6 separate regions of the Homo sapiens genome follow, and all the other regions are linked to region 1. Evidence: fine-mapped expression QTL. A gene starts in region 1. Each other region holds a variant in brackets. All regions are shown on one strand. Distances are from middle to middle.

Region 1 (4,084 bases):
TAAAAACACAAAAATTAGCTGGGCGTGGTGGCGGGCGCCTGTAAACAGATATGTGGGAGGCTGAGGCAGGGGAATCACTTGAACCAGGGAGGTGGAGGTTGCAGTGAGCCGTGCCACTGCACTCCAGCCTGGGTGACAGAGCGAGACTCTTCAAAAAAAAAAAAAAAAAAGACATGATCTTTCTCCTCTTTCCCTTTCTCTGTCAGTTCTCTTCTCTGCCTTCCTGTGAGTCGGTTTCATTTTCCCCACACTCTCCACAGCCCCAGGCTTTCATCTCATGCTTCAGCAGGGGAAGCCTCTTGGGATGGTGTCTTGTTGGGTTTACTTAGGTCTCCTGAACCAGTCCCCTTGGCTGGCCAGGCCTGGTCAGGTGCCCACTCCTGACCCTGGAGGTGGATTGAGTGCAGAGGGTTCTTCTCAGATGGAGGCAGGGCAGGCAGGACCCAAGTTGTCCACGGTACCTGTTGAGCACTTCCTGGGTGTGGGTGGGTGCCTCTGGGGAGAGAGGCGCTTGTGGCACTCTGCAGTGGCCATCCTGTGGGAAGCCAGCAGCCTGAAGCCACCCCAGAGCATGAACCACACAATCCTAACTTTCCTGGGGCAGAGGTGAGGGTTGGGGGAAGCCTCCGGGCTCCTGCTGGGGACTAGCTGCCTTGGAGGTAGAGAGTCAGCCCCCAGCCCTGCTCTGGCCCAGGACCCTGAAGCTGCTCCCCCAGCCCACTCAGGGCTTGAGGCCCCTGTGCTGTCCCCTGCTGTGAAGGAGTCAAGAAAATAGAAATCCTTGTACCCTTCGTCCACAAGCTGGGGTTGGCCCCTGGCACCTCAGCACGGAGTCTAGGACCTTCACAGTGGCAGCAGGTGCCAGAGAGGAAATTTCAGGGAGGGTTGGCCAGAGAGAGAGGCCAATGGCACCAGCTAGGGCCGTTTTTTTCCTTTTTTTTTTTTTTTTTTTTTTTGAGATGGAGTTTTGCTCTTTGTTGCACAGGCTGGAGTACAACAGCATGATCTTGGCTCACTGCAACCTCTGCCTCCCAGGTTCAAACGATTCTCCTGCCTCAGCCTCCAGAGTAGCTGGGATTATAGGTACCTGCCATCATGCCTGGCTCATTTTTGTATTTTTAGTAGAGATGGGGTTTCACCATGTTGGCCAGGCTGGTCTCGAACTCCTGACCTCAGGTGATCCACCCGCGTTGGCCTCCCAAAGTGCTGGGATTACAGGTGTGAGCCGCCACACCCGGCCTTTCTTCTTCTTCTTTTTTTTTTTTTGAGACGTTTTCTTCCCTTTCTCCACTGCTTGGGGGTAGGGTGGGGCCTGGGGCCCTATCTGTGCCCACTCCCCCCAGTGTCTGTTGTAGTGTACGTGCCACATCCCTTTGAGGGGCTGCCATTAGTAAGTGCCTGCTGTGTACCAGGTGTGGTCAGCACCAGTGCGTGCAGAGATGAGCACTGGCCCTGTGGTGTGCAGACTGGGATGCGTGCAGGACACGCTAGCCCTGTGGCATGAGGACCAGCACCTGAGCATGCAGAGATGAGGACGAACCCTGCGGTTCAGCTGGGAAGACAAATCCACCCGCACATGGGTACCGCCCCCCCACCCCACACAGCCAGCGTGAAGCATGCCACTGCTCTGACCTCTGTCTAGACACTTGGCGGCGGGGGTGGGGGGCGGCTGACAGGTACAGCTCTGTGCCCATGTGTGTGTACATGCGAATGCCCCTTGCAGTGTGATGTGGTCTGAGTATGTGGATGAGTGCCTGCGGGCACATGTGTATGCGTTCATGTCTGTGCACGTGTCCAATGGGGCTTTGTCAGTATGTGAGAAGCGTGTGCAGGTGTGTCTACTGATGCCTGTGTGAAGTGGTGTGTGGATGTGCACGGGAGCGTGTGTGCCGCGCTGTGCTCAGGTGTGTACAGGTGTCTAATGATACGTATGTCTGCGTGCATGTATCTGTGTGTACCTGGGTATCCTGGGCGTGTGTGTGTCCATGTGTGCATCCCACGTGCCCCTGTGCCCATGCGTGTGCATGTATACTTACATCCACGTGTGCTAGTGGAATGACATGTGTGTGGCTGGTTCCTCTGGCGTGTGCCGAGCCATGGTGGGGCAGGCAGGCAAAGGTCCCTGTCTCAGGCAGCCCTCGGGAGTGGGTGTGAAGGTCCCCAGTGCTCAGGCGTCCCTGAGGCTTCCAGCTGAATCTTTCTGTCCCTCCTAGGCGTGGCTGTGGGAATCCTTGGGGCGCCTTTGGGTTCCAGGAAGCTGGGGCTGTGTGGGCCGGGCTGCTAACTGGGGCTGTGGAGCAATCTGCCAGCCGAGCCCCTTCCGGAGCTGTGGGTTCCTCTGGGTGTGGGGAAGCTGCCCTCCACAACCTCCTCGGCCTATCTTGGTGCCTCCTGGAGTGCAGGACACACCTCCCAGCTCTGCAGCCTCACCCACAGGAAGCTCGGGTTGGGGGCAGGCGAAGAGGGAGGTGCCACGCTGGGCTCCCCGCCCTGCACCGGCACTGACCCCGCTGTACCACGGCCCTCTTGCGGACAGCCCCGGGGACGTCGTTGGGACATCGCTGGGACCCCGGGCTCTGCAGCCACAACCATGTTTGGCCGGAAGCGCAGTGTCTCCTTTGGGGGCTTCGGATGGTGGGTGACAGGTGGGAGGGTGGGGGAATGATGGGAGAGAACTTAGAAGTGAAGTCTTGTTAAGTGCATTGGCGGCCGTGGGAACAGAGGGGCTCGGGCTGTGCCTGAGAGCTGGGTCTGCTGACGCCCTGGCAGGTCGAGATGCAGGATCCTGGTGGGGACATCAGAGACCGTAAGCCTTCCCCACTGTCCCTGGGCACAATCTGCTGGCGAATCCTGGAGGTCTGCGCCGGCTGCCCGTGGGGAGGTGGATAGCATGAGTGTGACTGCAGTTGAATGTGTGTGTCTCTGTGTCCGCAGGTTCCCATGTATGTGTGTGCGTGTCTGGGATTATGTGTAAGTGTGTGTGTGCGCGTTTGAGCCTGTGTGTGCAGGCGTGTGTGTGTGGCTGTGACTGCCAGTCCGTGTGACCGTGTGTGAGGTGTGTGCCTGTGCATGTGGGCAGCTGCCTGTCTGCACTTCTGGCCTTCTGTGTCTGTGTGTGCTTGTGTCTGCGTGTTTGTGTGTGTGATGCTCCTGTCTGTGCTGTTGTTGTGGCCTTGTGGCAGGGGAGTCTGTACCTGCTGGACCTCTGGGCTGCCTGCTGTCTTGGGGGTGGGTTGTGAGAGAAGGTCTCCCACCTGCACCCCAGGCAGCCCACCCTAGCTCTGTCCTAGCCTGAGCAGCTGCATCTGTCCCCAGCCTCCTGCCTGGCCCTCTGGACACTCTTGCCTCTAAGCTTCTGTCTGGGATGAGGGATGTGCTTTTTCTTCCCGGCGGGGGGCAGAAGGTAGGCACACGAAGGCCAAAGGCTTGTCTCTGGTTCCCAGTGCTGGCAGCTTCTTCGCAGCTGGGGAACAGAGTCTGGTGGTTTTCATGATCGGTTTCCTTTCAGTGCCTGGGCTGGGGGCGTTGTCAGACTGGGAGAGGGCCCCGCGGGAGGTGGCCGGGGGGTGTCCCGGTGTGGAAAATGGTGGACTAATGGGGGTGGCACGAAGGGCGAGGGGGAGAGGGGCTGTGTTCCTCGGTAATTTTTCGCTTCCGTGTGTGTGGCTTATTTCCCTCTTCCTCCTCTTCAAAAGCACTTTGCCATCCATCCTCTGGCAGGGGGGGACTGTGGGCACTCCATGTTTGGCAGATGGGATGGTGCGGATGAGAAGATGGCACAGCGTCGCCTGTGTCTGCTCTCGGGCCCTCCCTGACGCCTGGATCTGGGAGCTGCCACCCCGAGGGTAGGTGCCAGTGTCCGGGAGGCAGCAGAGGACTTGGCTTCTGGTTGGGAGGGGTGTGTGTGTCTTGGCTGTGGGCCTTGCAGGGCAGGGCCCAGCAATTAGATTGTGCCCTCCAAGGCCCGCCTTTCTCTGGGAGGTGTGGAGCAGATGGAAGGCTGGTCGCCAGAAAGCTCCGGGTGCACAGGTCCCGGTCTCAGCCTAGCTTCATTCCATATGAAGCCCTCTGTGTTGAGACCCAC
Region 2 (4,084 bases), 220 kb after region 1:
TCCTGTCAAAGTTTTTTTTTTTTTTTTTTTTTGAGATGGAGTTTTGCTCTTGTTGCCCAGGCTCAGGCTGGAGTGCAGTGGTGCGACCTCGGCTCACTGCAACCTCTGCCTCCCGGGCTCAAGCGATTCTCCTGCCTCAGCCTCCCGAGTAGCTGGGATTACAGGTGCCCGCCACCACACATGGCTAAATTTTTTGTATTTTTAGTAGGGACACCATCTTGGTCAGGCTGATCTTGAACTCCTGACATCAGGTGATCCGCCCATCTTGGCCTCCCAAAGTGCTGGGATTACAGGCGTGAGGCACTGCGCCCGGCCTCCTTCCTGTCAAAGTTCTCATTTCCCAGGCTGATGGGAGCATAACTGAGAATCCCCAGGGCTGAAAGCCATCTCAGCCATCCATCCTTGCCCCTGGTGAGGCTGCTGCTCCCCCACGTCAGCACTGACCCTTGATCTTTCTCCTGAGCAGCAGGCCTGCCATTGCCCTGTGTTGTGCCGCCTGGCACCTCACCCCGCTTGGAGCAGTTCCTTACAGCTCACTTCTGTCCTCCCAGCTGTAATGGAAGCGTTTCTCCCATGAGACACAGAACAGTTGGCTTTTGGACATCTAGACCTACTTTTCAAGCTGAACTGCTTGGAGATAGTCTCAGGAATCTGCTGGTTCTACAAACACTTCTAAAGTTTGCATTTTCACTTAGATCTAAAAAAAAAAACCTTCCAATTATAAAGACTGAACGTTTGGCTGGGCGCGGTGGCTCACGTCTGTAATCCCAGCACTTTGGGAGGCCGAGGCAGGTGGATCACCTGAGGTCAGGAGTTCGAGACCAGCCTGGCCAACGTGGTGAAACCCTGTCTCTACTAAAAATACAAAAATCAGATGGGCGTGGTGGTGCACACCTGTAATCCCAGCTACTTGGGAGGCTGGGGCAGGAGAATTGCTCAAACCTGGGAGGTGGAGGTTGCAGTGAGCTGAGATTGCGCCACTGCACAGCAGATCCAGACTGTGTCTCAAAAAAAAAAAAAAAAAAAAAAAAAACAAACCTAAAGTTTGCAGTGATCACTCCAAATTAAGAGATGTTCCTATAGGGTAAATAGGTAAGGCCTGAAGTCAGCACTGCATACGCAGCCCATGGGGCCACTGGGGTTGGGGGTCTGTGAGCAGATTCTCGGGAGTCTTGCGAGAACAGCTTTCACGATGAAAGAGCTGTACGTTATGTTTGAACGATGCTGATCTCTAGACCATTTTCCAGTGCCATTCTCAGTTACTGCCAGCTGTTGATGAGGTTGTTATTGGTCCGTAATGCAATGAAAAGTGATGATACTTGCTGTACCGACGTCAGATGGACGTAGAGCACGTGCAGGCCACATTTTGAGAAATGCTGAGCTCACCCAGCCCTCCACTGACCTCATCGCACAGAGGTGGAGCAGAGGACCGGGGAGGAGAAGGCTGCCGGGCTGGCTGTGATGGACCCGGGACCGTGGCAAGCTGGGAGTTGCCAGGTTCATTTCTCCCAGCCTTTGAGGGACTGTGATAGTTCATGCCTTGGTCTGACCTGACCCCTAGTGGCAGGAGGGGCCACAGCTATCCCTGGCAGTCTTTGTGGCCCCGCAGTACCTGCAGGGAGGTACCTGTAAGCCGGTCCCCCTAGCAGTGCCAGTGATGGCAGGTGGAGCACAGCAGGGCCCCGCCAAGAATCCTTGGTCTTTGGCGTCTTTGCCCCCTCCTTTTCCTCCTGATGGGGAGTTGTGATGTCAGGATGGCCCCGCTGTTTTGGGGGTCCACGAGAGAGCTCAGGCCTTGTGCTTGGCCCTGCTCCACTCCTGGGTCGGAGTCATGGTCTCTTGGAGCAGAGTTGGCATCTGTCTTGCATTTGCCCCGCTAGAGGGACAGAAGACCCGGTGCTGACTCCTCACACTTACCCAGCCTGCCGCCTCCTCACACTTACCTTGCTGACTCCGGCGGCTGCACCAGGACTAATTGAGGAGCCAGTGTCCTCCCTGACACCAGCCTCTGAGTTTTTCTTTTCTTTTCTTTTCTTTTTTTTTTTTTTTTTTTTTGGTGGGAGCCTTGAAAATTCGTGGTTTCTAATCATCCTTCAGTCATCCACCAGTTGAATTGTATTTTCAACCTGGACCAGTTTTTAATATACAGGGACCCTTTTATCTGGAGCCCAGGGTTCTGGGTTTGGATCCTGGCTCTATCTCTTACCTGCTATGTGGGCTTGGGCAATAATTTACCCTTCAGAACTTTTTCTGTCCAATGCCTGTCCTCTCTGCATCTCAGAATTGTAGAGATTCAATAGATCTTGTATGTGAAGCTCATGAGACCAGATACTGTTACACAGGAGTTACTATTTCCCACATGGAATCCTTTCTGGGAAAGAGA[CAG/C]GGAGGAATACAATCACGTGTCACTCAACGACGGGAAATACGTCCTGAGAAATGACGGGAATACGTCCTACGACACACGTCGGCTATAGAGCCCGTGGCTGCCAGCACAGACCTGGATGGTCTAGCCTAGGACACACGTCGGCTATAGAGCGTGTGGCTGCCAGCACAGACCTGGATGGTCTAGCCTAGGACACACGTTGGCTATAGGGCGCGTGGCTGCCAGCACAGACCTGGATGGTCGAGCCTAGGACACACGTCGGCTATAGAGCCTGTGGCTGCCAGGTTACAAAGCTGTGCAGCAGGTTCCTTTACTGAATATTGTAGGTAATTGTAACACAAAGACAGGCATTTGTATACTAAACATCTAAATATGGAAAAGGTACAGTAAAAATATAGTATTAGAATCTTAATAGGACCAGTGTCATCTATGCAGTCTGTTGACTGCAGTGTCATTGTGTGGTGCTGGACTGGATTGCAGAATATAAATGATTAGTTTGGAATGTCATGATTGATGATGGTGTTGTCAACGCACAAGGGCACCAAGAGAATGTAAAGATGCTGATTTTTTTTTTTTTTTTTTTTTTTTGAGACAGTCTCGTTCTGTCACCCAGGCTGGAGTGCAGTGGTGCGATCTCGGCTCACTGCAACCCCAGCCTCCTGGATTCAAGCAATTCTTCTGCCTCAGCCTGCCGAGTAGCTGGGATTATAGGCACACACCACCATGCCTGGCTAATTTTTGTATTTTTTACAAAAATTAGAGATGGGGTTTCACCATGTTGGCCAGGTTGGTCTCGAACTCCTGACCTCAGGTGATCCACGTGCCTCCACTTCCCAAAGTGTTGGGATTACAGGCGTGAGCCATCGCCCCTGGCCGAGATGCTGAGATTTATGGAGCACTTAACTCATTCATGGAACCTGGCTGCGGCCAGGCTTGGTGGCTCACTTTGGGAGGCCAAAGCAGGAGGCTTACTGGAGCCCAGGAGTTTGAGACCAGCCTGGGCAACACAGGAAGAACCTGTCTCTATTTATTTATTTATTTTAAAAAAGGAAGCTCGCCGCTCCTCCAGGGACACCTCAGTGTGCCACCACCCCTGTCCTGCCCTCAGTTGTTCAAAGGGTACATGGCTTTATGATGCTTGCGTGACGGGGTAAATAGAACGCGCTGACTGTTTTAACCATGCGGTAGGAAAACTGTTGCTAGGTGACCCTGTTCTATGGTATAGAGAGGGAGTGAGAGATGTCCCTCCAGGGGCATCTTTGACTCAGATAAGAGATGCCCGATCAAATCAGGGGTATGAAGCTGGTGGGCTACACACCTCACTGTCAGTAGCTCATCTAGGGGGCTGTCCGGTTTACAAATGGCCCTCCTGAGTCTGCATCCCTTGTCAGGATAGAAAAGCAGGCAGGATGGGGTTCTTTGCCCTTCCCAAGCTTGGAGAAATCCTGACGTCCAGAGAGCCCAGGGAGACCTGTTGTTTGGGTCAGGAGCAGCAGCCCTGCCATTTTCTTGGGACCACTTTGCTGTAGACCCAGCTCTTCCTAAGATGACTCAAGGCTGGGCGTGGTGGCTCACGCTTGTAATCCCAGCACTTTGGGAGGCTGAGGCAGGTGGATCACGAGGTCAGGAGTTCAAGACCAGCCTGGCCAACACAGTGAACCGCCATCTCTACTAAAAATACAAAAATTAGCCAGGCATGGT
Region 3 (4,084 bases), 240 kb after region 1:
CCTGCTGTGGCCGTGAGGGGGGACGTGTGTTTCTTTTAGATCAGGGAACTAGAGGCCTTGTAACCTCAGAATGGCCGGAGAGATGCCGCCAGCTGGGGATGTCCAAAGAGTCTCCTACTCGCCCCTGAAGACCTGCAATGGGGAAGGAGGGGCAGATGGCCTGTGTGCGGATGGGAAGGGGGTTCCCAGTGACACTGGACTAGACGTACTAGTTAGGCCTCCCTTCCACCGATGGGGTCTGGTTCCCGCAGGCAGAAGGGGAGTCGCCCAAGCCCGCTTCTGACCCAGGAGGGAGGAGTTCCTGAGGGCTCCCTTGCTCCCCTGCCCTCAGGCAGCTGTTCCCTCCTTGTGTCTTTGGCGGAGGCCCTGGGCTGAGGTGTGTTCTCCCTCCCTGTCGGGAGTCAGCACTGTGAGGGACCACCCCAGGAGGCCTCTTCCCCTGCCTGCTTTGAGGGGGCACGTGGTTTGAGCAGAGTGGCCGTGGGTCCAGCTCGCCCCCATCAAGGCCTGGATTTCTGCTGGGGAAGTCACCAGAGACCCATCTGAGCTCCCAGCCCTCTCCCCACATGGGGCTTCAGGGGTCAGAGTCACAGCTGGAGCCAAGAGGAGGGGTACAACCGAACCCACTCTGTGTTCAACCTGATTTATGAAAAAGCAGAAGACAAATGGGCATATGGACCTTCACCCCCGGCTCCCATCACGCACTCTGGACGCCACTGCCCACCAAAGCCGTGGCTATGCGCAGCTTCTCGGGCCACGCAAGGTGGGGCACCCTTACATCAGGTGCCCTCCTGCTCCTGAGTGTATCCAGTGAGCTGTAGCCATGGGCAGGCGTGTTCCCCACCCCTTGCTCCCGACGTCCGCGTCGTCCCCTCCTTCCTGTACGGAATGTTCGCTCATCGCCGCCTCCTCCTTGTCTCCTCAGGGAATCCCCTCTTCTGTCCTGGAAAAGGCTCCTGTACCAGCAGTTTGGGAGTGCCGTCCACGACCCTGACAGTCCCAGCCCTGCTGCCCCATGGCCACGTGCCCACAGATGTGCTGTTGGTCCAGGTGTCCCAGTCTGGCCACAGCCCTGCCTCCGCCCTCACCTACATGCCCTCCCAGCCCCTCCCATCTCTGGACGAGGCCTCCTTCCTCAGGTTCCTCCTGCTCCTGACCTCCCAGTGTGATGTCCGGGTCCTTTATCATCCTATTCATCCTGGAGAGGAAAAGTGTCGGGCAAAGGGGGATCTGGGGGGAGCTCAGCAGTGACTGGGGAGCTGGTCTGCCTCAGAGACAGAGTAGGGGGTGGGAGCAGAGCCTCGGTGAGGGTCTTGGCCACAGGGCAGTGCCTTCCTGAACGTGGCAGGCTTTACTACCAGGAACGCACTCGGTGGTGGAGGCCCCATGTTCCCAGGAGCCAAGATTCGTAGCATCCTTGAGGCCATCCTGATAAAATTCGGCGCTATTGCCCCCGTAGCTCTGGAGCTCTAAACCGTCTATCTGCTTCTGTGCTGAACGCCTTTCCCATCTGCTGACGTAGGCCCAGGGCTGCCCTGCCCCTGCTGCCAGTGTACCGTGAGCGGGGCTCCAGCCAGTTCAAGCTCAGAGCCAGAGCTGGACGGGCCAGAACTGCGCTGCACACTTCCTGGACTGAGGCGGGGACTTTGGGTCCCACCCGGTTTCTCCTGATTATGGCTGCTGTGGGGTGAGGGGAGGGAGGGGCAGCCCCGAGGCAGTCTCTTCCCTTTGAGAAGATATTTTCCCACAAAGGGGTGGGAAGCCAGGAGTGAGAAGGAATTCAGGGAGAGCAAAGGAGCCAGTGCTGAGATGCTGCTGTGTTGGTTGAGGAAAACCTCGGGCCTGAGGGCCAGGCCGGAGCCCAGGTCTCTGCTGACAATGGGGGTTCAAGGAAGACGTCGTTATCTCCCCTCCCCACTTACTCGAGGAGAGAGGTGAGGGGGGGATGACTTGCGGGTTCTGATCAGGCCCCTGGGTGGGGAAGGGGCACAGTGTCCCTCAGCAGCTTACGCCCCTGGAGTCTTGGGGGGCCCAGCCTGGCCCTGGGGCCTTTTCCAGCTACTGTGCCCTTGGGCAGCTGCGTCTGGGGCTCAACCCCCCAATCCTGTTCCCCTCTCCAGCTGCGGGTCTGTAGGCAGCTGTCACATCTGAAGGGTTTCTGCAACCTGGACCCCATCTGGGTGTGGGTCAGACCCTGTGACCCACATGCCACCCCCACCCTCCACAGAGCCCCCTTGCTGGGACAGCCAGCTCACCTCCAAGGACATCCCCTCCTGGCTTCTCCCCCTTCCGAGTCTGCAGCGCCGTGGGCTTCTCTGCCGATGGGCCCGGGTTGGGGTTAAGGTGGGCATCCTCCAGGTACAACGAGCCTGAAGAGCCCCTTTCAGTGCAGACGGGGCTGCAGAGTGACACTGGCTGGGCACCTGCCCCACGACCAATGACAAGGATTTCCAGCTGAATGCTTTATTCCCATAGGGATCTGGACCTGTGCCCAAGATATAAATACTACA[C/CTTTT]TTTTTTTTTTTTTTTTTAACTGACATTGTGAAATTCTCCCTATAGCTTTTGCCATTCAAGCAACATTGTGATCTTTCTTCCCCGCCACGTGTGTGGGAATGATTGAGTCCTGTTTGCAAGCTGGAGAGGAGCTCTCCCTTTGCTAGTACTTTCTCTAAAGTACTAGTCTAGTAAAATTTATTCTTGTTAGAAGGTCAACAAAATATCTGTTTAGCTTTTATGAAGAGTCACCGTAGCAGCCCCCACGGCTGGAAAGAGGCCTGTACGTTCTGGACGCGTTTTGTTGGCTGGGCTTCTGGAGGCACTGGCAAGGTCAAACTGCATTTCTTTAAGAACAGTTGCAGGATCTGGCTCGCCTCTGTGGGAAGCCGGCATTACAGGTGCTTGGTGGATGGGCCGTGTCACATTGCCATCTGGGGTCCTTTGGGGTTTCCAGGTTGTCACCATGCTGTCCCATTTGGGAATCCCATACCTGCCTGTCCCCACTGCGCTGGCTGACCCTTGCTGCCTGCTGCCTCTTGGGAGGGCTTTGTCCCTGCCTCTGAGCTGGTGGGCAGGATGGCTGGGTGGCCCCCAGAGAAGCACAGACCTGAGATGGGGTCTCCATGCCCGGTTTGCTGTTGGAATGATCTGAACAGGACCCCAAATGCCTCTTCCCTCTGGTCATGCCTCACTATCTCTAGGAGCTCCATCCTGTGGCTTCCAGAGTGTGCACTTCCAGCCCACCCGGGCAGTGCTGAGAGGGAGGAGGAGAACAAGGATGGCCCAGCCTCCCCTCCCTCCCCTAGACCACGGGGCGGGCAGCTCGGGTTCCTGGAGGGCTGTTTCCCCCACGCTGTCCCTACATCTGCTCTGATCTAAAATGTCTTTCCTTTTATGCTGCGCCCAGTCTTGGGGCTCAAAGATTTGCCCAAACCTCATTGGCCCTCGTGACTAGGCTCATCTAGATGGTGCTCACGCTGGTGTTTGAGGCATTTCCACTGTGATCTCCACGAGGGGATGTTTTCCGGGACACATCTCTGGCTCTGGGAACTGCCTGACTCACTGAAGAAACTACTTTTCAGGCACTGTAGGGTCACCCATATGCCTCCAGCTCAGTTGACGCTTAAAAACAGGTGCAGAAAAGCTCGCGATGGAAGGTCTTAATGAGAGTGTCTGTCTATGCCAATCATGTAAAATGACGTTTCTTGAAAAAGATTCAGTGGTTCAGCTTTGTCAGCATCATCTCAACACAAGCCTGCTGGCTCTTTTTAGCATCTCATCCAACCATGTCATCGTCCAGATGAGAAATCTTAGCCCAGGTGAGGGGAGTAACTTGCTTGAGGTCACACAGCTGGCTGTTGGCAAAGCTGGGATTAGAACCCTCAACCCAGGGTCCCTTCCTCTGCAGCGCCTACATGGTTGGTTGAATAAGTGGCTGCGTTTCCTGGGGCCCTGGGTTTTGGGGAAGCCAGTTAGCTGCTGCTTTGGCACTGGCATGGAGGTGAGCAGTCAAGGATGCTGGTGAGGCTGCAGTTTCTGCTCTTTTTCATCAGGGGGGATAGTCTCTAGGATTTTTCAGTGAGGACCCTTG
Region 4 (4,084 bases), 230 kb after region 1:
AAGCCCATGTCAGTCTTTGCAGAGGAAAGGGGAAGAATGGAAACGAGAGGTGGGCTCGTTGGCCATCACCACCCCCTGGGCGCAGTGGGTGAGGGGACCTCTCTCTCAGAGTGACATAGCAGCAGCAGAGGGCAGGGGCCAGACCCGATGGTGCCCTGCCTTGGGGTTCCTGGCTGGAGTGGTGAGTGGCCAGTGCCCCAGGGGGCTGGGTCAAAGGTCCTTCTTGGAGCAGGATAGCTTGGAACCAGGGTTGAAGTCAGCAGGAAAGAAAGAGCAGGCCCAAGTGGGGAGCAGGAGGCAGCGGCTGTCCTGGGCTTTTGGGGGCTGCCTCAGGCCTGCGTGGGCGCAGCTGCCGAGGGTGGGCTGGCCTCGCTCACCCTGCCTCTCTCCTCAGGGCAGCCAGCCGTCCACGACCTCACCCTTCAAGCAGGAGGTGTTTGTCTACAGCCCGTCCCCGAGCAGCGAGAGCCCCAGCCTGGGGGCAGCTGCCACCCCGATCATCATGAGCCGGAGTCCCACAGGTCAGTGGCATCTGGTGGTGTGTGTGACGTCACCAGGAGGGCAGGCTGTGCCCTGTCCACTGTTAGCAGGGCCCCAGCCACGCTGAACTGGCCAGTTTTCACCCCTCCTCCCAGCTGTGAGGCCCTCCGCTCTGTGCGCCCGCCTCTTCTGTTCATCAGCCTTAAGATGCCCAAGTTCCTAAGCTCTTCTTACACTGAGAGTTGTGAAGCTGAGGCAGAGAGTTGAAGGCCTTGTGGGAGATCCCACAGCGGAGGAGTCGGGATTGGCAGTGGGAAAGCTGAGCACTTTCCATTAGCCCTTCTCCCCACCTGCCAGTGCTCCAACCCTTCTCCCCACCTGCCAGCGCTCCAGGGCTGCCAGGGCCCGTCTGTCATGTCGGGGGTCTTGATAATACAAGACGGGGGAAGGGCTGCAGGGGGAGGGAACAGCATGTGGAAAGGCCCAGAGGAGAGGAGAGAGCGGGTATTCCGGAACTGCACGTGTTCATGGCAGCTGGGTTCACAGAGCCAGGCGTCAGAGAGGCCGGAGCGTTGACAGGCTGGGTCAGCCCCGGGCCCCGGGTGAGGATTTTGTTCTGCTAGCGGCCACTGTTGGAGTGTTTGAAGGTTCTTAAGTAGGGAAGCACCATCTGGAGTTGAGAAAGTCCATTTTGGCTGCTGCAGCTGCTGAGTGTAGAATGGATTAGTAGAGAGCAGGAGCAGAGGGGAGGGATGGAGGGGAGGGGAGAGGAGGGGAGGGGAGCTGCGGCAGAAGCACCTCGGTTCAGGAGAGATCAAGGAGGTAAAATGTACGGGCTCAGTAGCAGGGGTTCAGAGAGAGCAGGAGTCTGGGCGTTTTGGGGTTCTGTGATCCCTGCAGTTGGTCAGAATAGGGGGGCCAGCACCTGAGGGCCGTTCAGGTAGACCTGTGCGGTGGGCACTGCTGGGCGGGTGCTCCGGGTCTCTGCCCTCGTGAGGGCAGCACAGGACTTTGAGCCTGGGTCCAAATCCTGGGTCTGCTGCTTACTAGACATGTCATTGGGCGAGTCACCAAGCCTGTCTGTGCCTCAGTTTCTCCAAGCAGAAAATGA[A/G]GGGAGGGGAAGAGTCGTGTCTGCCTCAGAGGGTTGGTTGTATGAAGATGAAAGGAGCTCATGCTTGTACGAGGCCTGGAACTGTTAACCTCGGTGTTGGTTAAAGAATGGGAATGAGACAATAGTGTAGTCAGCGGTTCTGAGCCGGGGGCAGTCTTGCTACCCCATGGATGTCTGGCAATGTCTGGCGACATTTTTAATTTTCACAATTTTGGAGGGGTGCTACTGGCATCTAGTGGGCAGAGGTCACGGAAGCTGATAAGCAATGTACAGGACAGCCCCCTAGCCACATCAGACAAATAATTCTCTGACCCCAAATGACATTCGGTTGAAAAACTCTAGTCTCAATGGTAGAAACACAGGAAGGGCCAACAGGCCTTCAGGGTGGCTGAAGCCAAAATGTTCCTGGGGTTCACACAGCGAAGGGATGTTGCAAAGGGAACCTGCAGGGTCAGAGATGAAGGGAAGATCGTGATTCCACAGCCAGTGACCCTTTGCATGCGTGTTTCTCAGTGAGTGGAAGAGTTCACGTGCCTCCTCTCATTCAGCCCCCTGTGGTTGGGCAGCTGCGGAGCTGGGTTCAAATCCTGGTTGTAGCATTGACAGGTCCACGTCTCTGAGCCTCAGTTTCCTCATCTGTAAAAGGGGGTGGAAATACAAATTCCCTGATTTTTTTTCGAGATGGAGTCTCACTCTGCCACCCAGGCTGGAGTGCAATGGCGCAATCTCGGCTCACTGCAACCTCCGCCTCCCAGGTTCAAGTGATTCACCTGCCTCAGCCTTCCAAGTAGCTGGGATTACAGGCATGTGCCACATGCCCGGCTAATTTTTTTATTTTTAGTAGAGACACAGTTTCACCATGTTGGCCAGGCTGGTCTCGAACTCCTGACCTCGTGATCCACCCACCTCGGCCTCCCAAAGTGCTGGGATTACAGGCGTGAGCCACCGCGCCTGACCTGGTGTTTTTGTTTTGTTTTGTTTTGTTTTCTAAATAAGACTTAAATATTGAAGGAATGAATGAAAGAATCTGTAAGCAAGCCTGGCCCCCACTTGGTGTTAAATAAACGTCAAAGTAAGGAAGGTTTTGAGTAAAGGAATTAGAGAGTCTCTGCAGGTTGCTGAAGGTCACCGAGGGCGGAAGGGACCTGGAGCGGGTCTGGTGACTTATGGCCGGTGCTTCCCACACCACACGGTGAGGCTGCCTCTTACACACCTTTTCTCCACACAGTATTTAACCCCGATGGGCTGCTTTTCACCCCCAGCCCACGAAAGATGTGCTTGGTACCCACTGGATCAGGGTGGGCTTGGGGGGATCTGGGAACCGGTTTCATGCTGTTTGGCTGAGTCTGGGGAGAGGCAGGGTGGAGTGGGGAGAGGTGGCCTGACGTCCTGACGTACAGTCTCCATAATGTCAGATATCTGATCATGGTCATTTCCTACCTGGGCTTCCTGGGGCACAGAAGAGGACTGATAGGTTACACAGAGGTGTTGTAGCCCTGGGTGGAACTCCTCGATTCGAAGCACCACGAACCAGCCAGCAGCTTCCAGGAAGGCTGCACTAAGCTTTCCATACCCTCGGCCAGAGGACAGCCAGAAAGTCAAGTGGCCCTCCTGCCAGCGGGGCACAGCGGGAAATGTTGACACCGGGCTCTGCCACCACTCACACACACTTAACGGAATTTTATTATACGATGGATGTCAAACCCAGTGTACAAATACTAGATAATATTCTTTACCATAAGTCCCATATGTCCAACTGATTCTCACAGAATGCTTTTAGTGGTGTTTGCTTCACCTTTTTATCTGTAGCCAACTTAAGGCTGCAGGAGATGAATGTGTGTAATTCTGACATGAATGTGGACTGATATTACCATGTTTGTTAATAAGTATTTTATATGTATATATTATATATACATATATAGTATATACATATAATATACATATGTTATAGATACACATAATATACATATATGTATATATTATATATACATATATATTATATGTTATATGTATATACATATGTATAATATATATTATACACACACACACACACACACTCACTCTCATGGCGCCCGGCCATGAGTATTTTGTATTAAGAGAACTTCATTCGTCAGTGACATGAGTCATTTCCTTGCTGTATCCGAGAAAAGTTTTCAAACCCCGGAAGGATATTTCCTCAGTTTTCTTTTGTGCTATTCACAATGTAATCGCTGCAGACACAGCATGTTTTGAAGTTTCATGTAAATTCCTTTTTTTCTATTAGTTCCTTAAGTCTAGACAACAAAACAATCAATCAAGTCATGATTTGTAGCATGTACCAGTTTCTGTGGTGTAAATACACTTGTCGTGGCTGATCTCAAGCTACTGACGTGATGTCCTCGAACGTGGACTTGGGAAGAAGATATACTGTAGCCACCATCTTTAGGGTGTTTCTACCACATGGATACAATAGACGTAAGAGCACAGATAATCGTAAAACAGAGAAAAATAAGT
Region 5 (4,084 bases), 210 kb after region 1:
TGCAGGCTGCTAGCCCTGACATCCTGCGGGAGGGAAGGAGGCGTGCTTGGGTGTGTGTGTGTGTGGTGGGTTGCAAGGTGCTTTGGGGAAACTCTATTTCAGGAGCCCTTTACTGGGTGCAGGTCAGCAGGGGAAGTGAAAAGGCCACTGGGCGACAGTGGTTACCCCTTACCAGCTGCTTGCTCATGCCAGGCACGGTGCTGGGTCCTTAGACGCACAGTCTTGAATCCTGACAAGCCCCTGGTGAGACAAGACCTCTCGCTAGAGGGAGGAAATGGAAGCTGAGAGCTGAACCCACTTAAGGCCTGAGGCCACAGAGCCAGGGAGCTGTGGCTGAGGTCCTGTCTGGGTCTGCTTGCGGTCTTGGTCATTGAGCCATCAGAGCAGGCGAGAAATTGGCTCCACGGAGTCGGGTGTGCACGAAGCATCACTCTGGATTATTTTTCAGAAATGAGTGTAGTCCTCATCCTGCCTGCTTGGAAGGAAAGTCCAGCTCAGCCATCACCAGGACTACCCCTTTCCCTCCCCCCTATCCCTGCCTCCCTCTCCGGAAGTCCTCAAAGGTGTCAGGAATCTCAGGTGAAGCCCACCGCCGGGGAGGGCCCTGTCTTTGTAGCCCCCTCCCCGTTTCCCGTCACGACTTGTCTGTTGCTCGGACGATGCTCTGTGTGCCACCGCGGCTCCCAGGCCACTCTTGGGCGTGGGGCCTTTGTCACGTTTGAAGCTTTCTGAGGTTCCCAGTGCATCCTCATGACCCACACCAAGCTCCTTCCTCCTTCCAGCCATGCAGGTCCCTTCCCCAGAGTCACCTGCATCTGCCTCTCTCCCTCCCTCCAAGCCCTCGCTGGAGGCCCTCGCTGCATTTAGAAAACAGGAAGGTGGGGCTGTGTTCAGGCAACTTCTGCTTTCAGTCCAGTGACCCAGATGTCCCCAAGAGGGGGGAACAACAAAGGCCTGGCCGCCTGGTTGGAATGGGGTCAAGAGAGGCGCACAATGAGGATGGAAGGTGAACGCACGTCGCAAGGAAGGGCCCTGTCCTCCGTGTGGCCCACAGGGCTCTGCTGTGGGACTGTCCAGCTGGAGGGTTGGATGGACTTGAGGATGTGTCTGAAGCCACTTACACGGTCGGCACAGACCACTCTAATGCAGGCTGGAGGAGGAGGGGGAGTGGGGTGGGAAGGGCAGAGCTGGGGCTGCCCTCTGGCCTCTGTCCCAGGTGCCCACGGTCTGCAGTCTCCCCATAGCCTTCCCACACCCCCACCCCTGATTCTGGCTCTGTGACTGAATTCTTGACCTGGGCCACCGGTGCCTGGTGGGTGGTGGTAGGGAACCGGGTTCAGCTGCTGGAGCCCAGCCAGAAATCACGTCAGCCGAACGCGCACCATTTCCTGACTCGGGGCACTGCAGTTTGGGCTGGGCAGACAGCCTGGAGCTTGAGAAGAGAAAGCCCGTATTGACCAGCTCTCTCCCGCTCCGTTTCCCCTCCGGACTCTGGCAGGGCCTTTCCTTGGCTCGGTGCCCAGCTGCCTGCTCACCCGGCCTGGCAGACTCTGCATCTGCTCCACTTCACAGGCCGGGGAGGCTGGCAGCACGCCAGGGCTGGGCTCACGTCAGCGGCTGTGTAGGGAAGGGAGGGCAGTCTCCCGAGAGCCTCACAGCCTCGTGGGCTGAGAATAGGTGAAGTCAGGGCACCTCTGTGCAGAGGGAAGGCGGGGTGTGGGGCCCGTCCCACGCCTGGGCGACCCCCATGCAGCGAACCTCGAGGCCGTCACTCTAAAGCTCAGTCTCACTCAGGGTGCCAGAGGTGCGCGCCCCACCCTCAGTTCCTAGCCTGGGCCTAGGACTGGCTGACCCCGTGTGTGGGGCCAGGGCTCCCGAACACGGGTCCACCGGCTGCACGAGAGTTTCCGGGGGGCCCTACCCTTCCGATTCGGCAGGTTTAGGCCAGAGCCCATGAACCCAGTCTGTATTTTTAAACACCTGAAGCAATTTTGAAGCAATTCTGATTTATGGCCGAGCTGAGGAGTCAGGCTTGGGAAGAGAACCCCAGAGACGGGTCGGGAGAGGTCTGGATGCTCTGTTCCTCTGCGGCTAATCACCTGTGGGACTTGGGGGCTTCTCTGTGTGTCTCTGGGCATCTGTTTCCTCATCAGGGAGAACAGTTCTCCCTGTGCCTTCTCAGTAGGATTAGCGTCAC[G/A]GTCGAATGAGGTCACGAGATGCCATCTCCCGGGCACTTGTATGGCATTAAAATTAGGGTCCCAGCCCTGTCCAGTCATCTTGCCAAACCTGCTTCTGGCCTCCAGGAATGCAGATGAGAGGCTGCGGATGGCCCCACACCGTCCGGCCCCACTTCTAGGAACAGGGTCAGGGCCTGTGCTGGCGATGCTCACAGGAGTATTTTGTTTGTGTTCTGGGAAGAGGAGGAGGGAGAAGGTGAGTAGCTTTGTAAGGAGCGTGGCTCCCGTAGGGGCAGCGCTCGTCTCTTCCCTCCAGGTCCGTACCATGACTCTGTTTCACTCAGGTCTCTGTCACTGCGCGGGAAGATGTGCCCACCTTTGGTCCACCTCTGCCCAGTCCCCCCGTTTTCCAGAAGGTAGGACACTCTTCCTTCTGCCCCTCTCGCATCCACGATGCCAGGTCTCAGTGCTTGAGTAGCAATGGTTGGGATGGAGCCAAATTCAGGCTGGGAACATTAGGGAGCTCCTTTTGCAGGTTTTGGGGGGAACCTCCTTTCTTGGGGTCTCTCCCCACCTCTTTCATGCTGCCAGTCTGGCCCAGCATAGGACCACTTGTCAGGGTGTTTGACACTGGGGTTGCTTTTCTGCTGAAAGACGGGCTTTTATGTTGAGCCCCGGTCAAGGAGCCTTGGGCAGGAATGAGCTCCAGTCGTGGAAGTGCCACTGTGGCTTCCCAGGACCAGGGAAGCGGGTTTCCTTGTTGGGATATTTGCAAGTGGGCTTGGCCTGGGCTAGAAATGATCCGCTGTCGGAAGGGACTTTTCAGGGGTTCTCCCCATGGCCCCGGCTCTGCCTGCCTGTCACTGTGGCTGAAGACCTTCTGGCAACAGCCGAGAGTGACAGACCTGAGGTCCGTCTTGTCTCTTCCAGGGCCCGGAATTCAGGGAGTTTCTGCTCACCAAGCTCACCAATGCCGAGAACGCCTGCTGCAAGTCGGACAAGTTTGCAAAGCTGGAGGTGAGAGTGTGGTTTCTGAAGGTCTCCCTCCTGACTGCTGGGCCACCTGTTAGCCAGCCTCATCCAGGGCTCCTCCATCTTTTTTTTTTTTTTTTTTTTTTTTGAGACAGAGTCTTGCTCTGTTACCCAGGCTGGAGTGCAGTGGCATGATCTTGGGACTCACCACAACCTCTGCCTCCCGGGCTCAAGTGATTCTCCTGCCTCAGCCTCCCTAGTAACTGGGATTACAGGTGTGCGCCACCACGCCCAGCTAATTTTTGTATTTTTAGTAGAGACAGGGTTTCCTCCATGTTGGCCAGGCTGATCTTGAACTCCTGACCTCAGGTGATCCGCCTGGCCCAGCCTCCCAAAGTGCCGGGATTACAGGCGTGAGCCACTGCGCCTGGCCAATCAGTCCTTTTTTTTTTTTCAAGACAGAATCTCACTCTGTCACCCAGGCTGGAGTGCAGTGGCCCGATCTTGGCTCACTGCAAGCTCTGCCTCCCGGGTTCACACCATACTCCTGCCTCAGCCTCCCGAGTAGCTGGGACTACAGGCGCCCGCCACCACGCCCAGCTAATTTTTTGTATTTTTAGTAGAGATGGGGTTTTGCCATGTTAGCCAGGATGGTCTTGATCTCCTGACCTCGTGATCCGCCTGCCTCGGCCTCCCAAAATGCTGAGATTACAGGCGTGAGCCACTGCGCCTGGCCCAATCAGTCATTTTTAAAGCACCTACTATGTGTCAGGCCCTATTCTGTTCCCTGGGATATGGGGATAAGTGAGACAGTTTCTATCCCTGGAGAGTACACAGGGTAGTCGGGGGGTGGGGCAGGGGGTCATTACTAAATAGATAGTTATAGTACAGTGTGCCAGCACTAGGCTGGGATGGAGGTCAGCACAGCTCAGATA
Region 6 (4,084 bases), 180 kb after region 1:
TTTTCTTTATCTATCTATCTATCTATATATATATATATCTGTTTCTGTATCTAACTATCAGACTTTGATCCTCTAACAGATTTTACTTCTTTTCAATTGCCTTTGGAATATTTACACAAATTGATTGCATAGTAGATCAGTGGTTTTCTGTGGACCTGCTACATCAGAATCATTTTGGATCTTTAAAACAAAGTAAAACAAAGCAAAAACAAACAAAAAAGCCCAACAAACAAAAACCAAAACCTAGACTTCTAGGCTCCAACCCAACCATTTGAAACACACACACACACACAATAAATAAATAAATAAGATATGTAAAGATGTGTAAATATATATATTCTTTTTTTTTTTTTTTTTTTTTTTGAGATGGAGTCTTGCTCTGTTGCCCAGGTTGGAGTGCAGTGGTGCAATCTTGGTTTATTGCAACCTGCAACTCCCAGGTTCAAGCAATTGTCCTGCCTCAGCCTCCCAAGTAGCTGGGACTACAGGCTCATGCCACCACACCTGGCTAATTTTTTTGTATTTTCAGTAGAGATGGGGTTTCGCTGTGTTGGCCAGGCTTGTCCCGAACTCCTGACCTCAGGTGATCTGCCCTCCTCTGCCTCCCAAAGTGCTGGGATTACAGGCGTGAGTCACCGCGTCTGGCCTAAATATATATATTCTTATTTCCTTCCTTATTTCCACAGGATTCTGTAGAATTCTGTAACTTGCTTCTCTTAACAATGTATCTTAGAGATTTTTCCGTATTAGCATATAGAGAATGTCTTAATTTATTTTACTGCTGGATGGTATTCCATTGCATGGATGTGAAATAATTTATTTAATACATCCCCTGGGCCGGGCATCGTGGTTCACGCCTGTAATCTCAGCACTTTGGGAGGCCAAAGCAGATGGCTCACCTGAGGTCAGGAGTTTAAGACCAGCCTGGCTAACATGGCAAAACCCTGTCTCTACTAAAAATACAAAAATTAGCCGGGCGTGGTGACATGCACCTGTAACCCTAGCTACTCGGGAGGCTGAGGCAGGAGAATCACTTGAACCCGGGATGCGCAGGTTGCAGTGAGCCGATTTGGCGCCACTGCACTTCGGCCTGGGCGACAGAGTGAGACTCTGTCTCAAAAAAAAAAAAAAAAAAAAAAATAATAATAATACGTCCCTTGTTAATGACCATTGCCAATATTTTGGTAACACAATAATGATTAAATGAATAACCTTGTGCAGACTCAGTTTTTATGGATTATGATAGTTTCTCAGATGAGATAGCTAGGTTAAAACATAAATGCATTTGTATTTTGATAGATAACGTTAAATTGCCCTCTGTAGGGGCTGTGTAAATTCCAACTTTCACCAGTAATGTATCAAAGTGCTTCTTATTCCAAAGCCTCTTCAGTAGAATGTATTGTCAAACACTTGGATTTTTGCCCGTCTGATAGATGAGAATAGTATTTAGTGTTGTTTAAATTTATAATCTTAATATGAATCATGTTGGACATCTCTTCATATATTTAAGAACTGCCTCTATTTATTTGCTATGAACAGTTTATAAGCTTTGCTTCTTTTTAAATTGGGCTGTTATTTAAGATTCTATTTTTTAAAATCTTGGCTAGGCACAGTGGCTCATGCCTATAATCCTAGCACTTTGGGAGGCTGAGGCGGGAGGATCACTTGAGCCCAGGAGTTCAAGACCAGCCTGGGCAACACAGGGTGACCCCATCTCTTAAAAAAAAAATTAGCTGGGTGAAGTGGCACACACCTGTGGTCCCAGCTACTCAGGAGGCTGAGGCAGGAGGATTGCTTGAGCCTGGGAGGTCGAGGCTACAATGAGCCATGATTGTGCCACTGCACTACAGCCTGGGTGACAGAACAAGACCCTGTTTTTAAATAAATAAACTAAATCAATCAATCCATCAATCAGTCGACCTATGTAACTAACTTACTTGTAGGTAATTATCGATAGCAGCTATAATTAGGAACTTCTGAACCACAAAGTAAAACTAAATACATTTCA[G/A]AGAGCAAGCTCTCTGCTGGATGTATTCACTTACAATTTGATGATAAAACTAGCAATTAATAACAAAATAATGATTTAAAAAAACCACTAAACCACTGAGAAGTAAACAATCCCAATACTTTCTTAAGTAGCTTTTAGGCCAAAGGGAATAGAAGCTGCAGTTACAGAATATTTATAAAGTAATGACATTTATAATACTATACATAAAACCTATGGGTTGTATTCAAAGCAATACTTAGAAAAAAATTTATTACCTTAAATGGTTTCCTATTAAATAAGAAAAAGAACTGGCAGGTGTGTTGGCTCATGCCTGTAATCCCAGCGTTTTGGGCGGCTGAGGCAGGAGGGTCACTTGAGCCCAGGAGTTCGAGACCAGCCTGAACAATAGAATGGACCTCATCTTTACAAAAATAAAAATAATAATAATACAGTAAAATAAAAATAAGAGTGATATTTGCAAGTTGTTATTATTGTTAGCAACTTCTCTGTGTCTCATTTTCCTCATCTGTGAAATGATGATGGTAGCATGTACCTTGAAATTATTGAGTGCTTACATGTCCTGGTGAGTGAGGACCTTACATGCTGCAGCTGCTCAGTAATGGTGGCTATTATTATTATCAATATTGTTACCTAAAGAAAGCCAGAGGAAGGAATTCACAAAGATTAAAGCAGAAATAAATAAACTAGAAATAAAAATAATTTGAGACTTGATAAACCTAGGTTTCTTTTGGAAGAAGCAATAAGATAGGTAACTAGCTAGTCGAATATAGATGAGAAGAGAAAATAAGAATATACAAAATTAGTCATAAAAAGATGCATGACCACAGATGTGAAGAAGATTAAATGATTACTAATGGATGCTGTGTTCAACTCATGCTATTAAATTGCTTCTGTTTCTAATTTTATTTGAAATTTTATTTGAAACAGATGCCTTTCTAGGAAAGTATGCCAAATGTAACTTAAGATGAGGTAAAAAAGAAACCTGAACAAACCGGTAACTGTGGAAGAAATTGAAAAAGTTCTCAAAGAATTATCTCTTCAAATGTTTCTAGATCTAGATGGTCTTGCAGGAAGGTGTTTTAAACTTTAAAGGAGCAGATTTTATGTTATTTAAACTGTTCAAGAGAAAAGAAAAAAAAATATGGAAAGCTTCCCAATTAATAATGCTTAAAAGAGCTTTATGGGCTGGGCACGGTGGCTCACGCCTGTAATCCCAGCACTTTGGGAGGCCAAGGCGAGTGGATCACCTGAGGTCAGGAGTTCACGACCAACATGAGTGAAACCTGAAATGAGCCTGGCCAACATGGTGAAACCCTGTCTCTACTAATAATACAAAAAAATTAGCTGGGCGTGGTGGTGCACACCTGTAATTGCAGTGAGCCGAGCTTGTGCCATTGCACTACAGCCTGGGTGACAAGAGTGAAAGTCCTTCTCAAAAAAAAAAAAAAAAAAAAAGGATCTTTTTGAATAAAATCAGTCAAATGAGATGCAAAAAAAGGGTAGGGGCCAATATTCCTTACGAATGTAGAAATCAATGTTGTAAATAAAATAGCAGCCCCAGAAACTCAAATCTAAATAGACTAATAAGAGTAATTCACTATAGCCAAGAAAGAGTTATTTTACCAATGCAGGATGGTTAATATTAGGAAATTCATTCAGTGTTTGTTTACCCAAGGCTTAATATATGCCGGACTTTGTCTGGTTGTAGAGATACTGTGAGGAATGAGTTCTTGCTACTTGCCCATAGAAGGCATTCAGTCCAAATGCACTGCGTTTTAGAGATTCTTGTTTCTGTTCTCGGTCTTACTCATCATCTTCTTCTTAGGGACAGGGATCATTATAGGCTAGTGAGGCTGATGGGAGACGTAGGTGGTGAGGGAGAACTGAAGGCAATGTGGAGGGTGTGTCTGAGTGTGTGTAGGGTTGATAAATGATGCTAGAGAAGTAAGAAAAGGCTAGATCCTGTACCAGTGATGTTTAGGAGCTCAGATTTTATCCTAAGAGTCATAGGAGAGGTACTGAAGGGAGAAGGTCATGATCAGATTTGCACAGTAGAATGATCACTCTGGCGCCGGG

Alleles and levels. Positions count from the first base shown, and alleles are read on the strand shown. Sizes are in standard deviations (SD) of each study's normalised expression. Not every link is listed here.
For the expression in lung of the gene that starts at base 2,501 in region 1, C is the high allele of the variant in region 2 and CAG is the other (small effect, 0.13 SD a copy in GTEx).
With allele CTTTT in place of C in region 3, the expression in monocytes of the gene that starts at base 2,501 in region 1 is higher (large effect, 1.0 SD a copy in Fairfax 2014).
For the expression in thyroid of the gene that starts at base 2,501 in region 1, allele A in region 5 goes with a lower level than allele G (large effect, 0.85 SD a copy in GTEx).

Evidence for each region. PIP is the estimated chance that this variant, and not a neighbour inherited with it, causes the effect.
Region 2: its variant is the best candidate, but not a certain one, in a credible set for the expression of RAP1GAP2 in lung (GTEx, PIP 0.68).
Region 3: its variant is the best candidate, but not a certain one, in a credible set for the expression of RAP1GAP2 in monocytes (Fairfax 2014, PIP 0.81).
Region 4: its variant is the best candidate, but not a certain one, in a credible set for the expression of RAP1GAP2 in whole blood (INTERVAL, PIP 0.71).
Region 5: its variant is the best candidate, but not a certain one, in a credible set for the expression of RAP1GAP2 in thyroid (GTEx, PIP 0.59).
Region 6: its variant is the best candidate, but not a certain one, in a credible set for the expression of RAP1GAP2 in lung (TOPMed, PIP 0.52).

Annotation. Positions count from the first base shown.
Region 1 is chr17:2,793,938-2,798,021 of GRCh38, forward strand. It overlaps RAP1GAP2 (RAP1 GTPase activating protein 2), which reads left to right and starts at 2,501. Exons shown (of 25, transcript NM_015085.5): 1 at 2,501-2,634. The coding sequence starts at 2,591.
Region 2 is chr17:3,011,599-3,015,682 of GRCh38, forward strand. The region is part of intron 17 of RAP1GAP2 (RAP1 GTPase activating protein 2); the gene reads left to right. Among named protein-coding and RNA genes, the nearest start is that of RAP1GAP2-AS1, 48 kb to the left of the region's middle. The variant CAG/C (reference allele first, on the strand shown) is at 2,384.
Region 3 is chr17:3,032,467-3,036,550 of GRCh38, forward strand. It overlaps RAP1GAP2 (RAP1 GTPase activating protein 2), which reads left to right. Exons shown (of 25, transcript NM_015085.5): 25 at 926-4,084. Among named protein-coding and RNA genes, the nearest start is that of OR1D5, 29 kb to the right of the region's middle. The variant C/CTTTT (reference allele first, on the strand shown) is at 2,511.
Region 4 is chr17:3,026,550-3,030,633 of GRCh38, forward strand. It overlaps RAP1GAP2 (RAP1 GTPase activating protein 2), which reads left to right. Exons shown (of 25, transcript NM_015085.5): 22 at 395-521. Among named protein-coding and RNA genes, the nearest start is that of OR1D5, 35 kb to the right of the region's middle. The variant A/G (reference allele first, on the strand shown) is at 1,592.
Region 5 is chr17:3,002,848-3,006,931 of GRCh38, forward strand. It overlaps RAP1GAP2 (RAP1 GTPase activating protein 2), which reads left to right. Exons shown (of 25, transcript NM_015085.5): 15 at 2,522-2,593; 16 at 3,108-3,194. Among named protein-coding and RNA genes, the nearest start is that of RAP1GAP2-AS1, 39 kb to the left of the region's middle. RefSeq lists enhancers at 772-901, 1,072-1,121. The variant G/A (reference allele first, on the strand shown) is at 2,198.
Region 6 is chr17:2,969,157-2,973,240 of GRCh38, forward strand. The region is part of intron 8 of RAP1GAP2 (RAP1 GTPase activating protein 2); the gene reads left to right. Among named protein-coding and RNA genes, the nearest start is that of RAP1GAP2-AS1, 5.3 kb to the left of the region's middle. The variant G/A (reference allele first, on the strand shown) is at 2,009.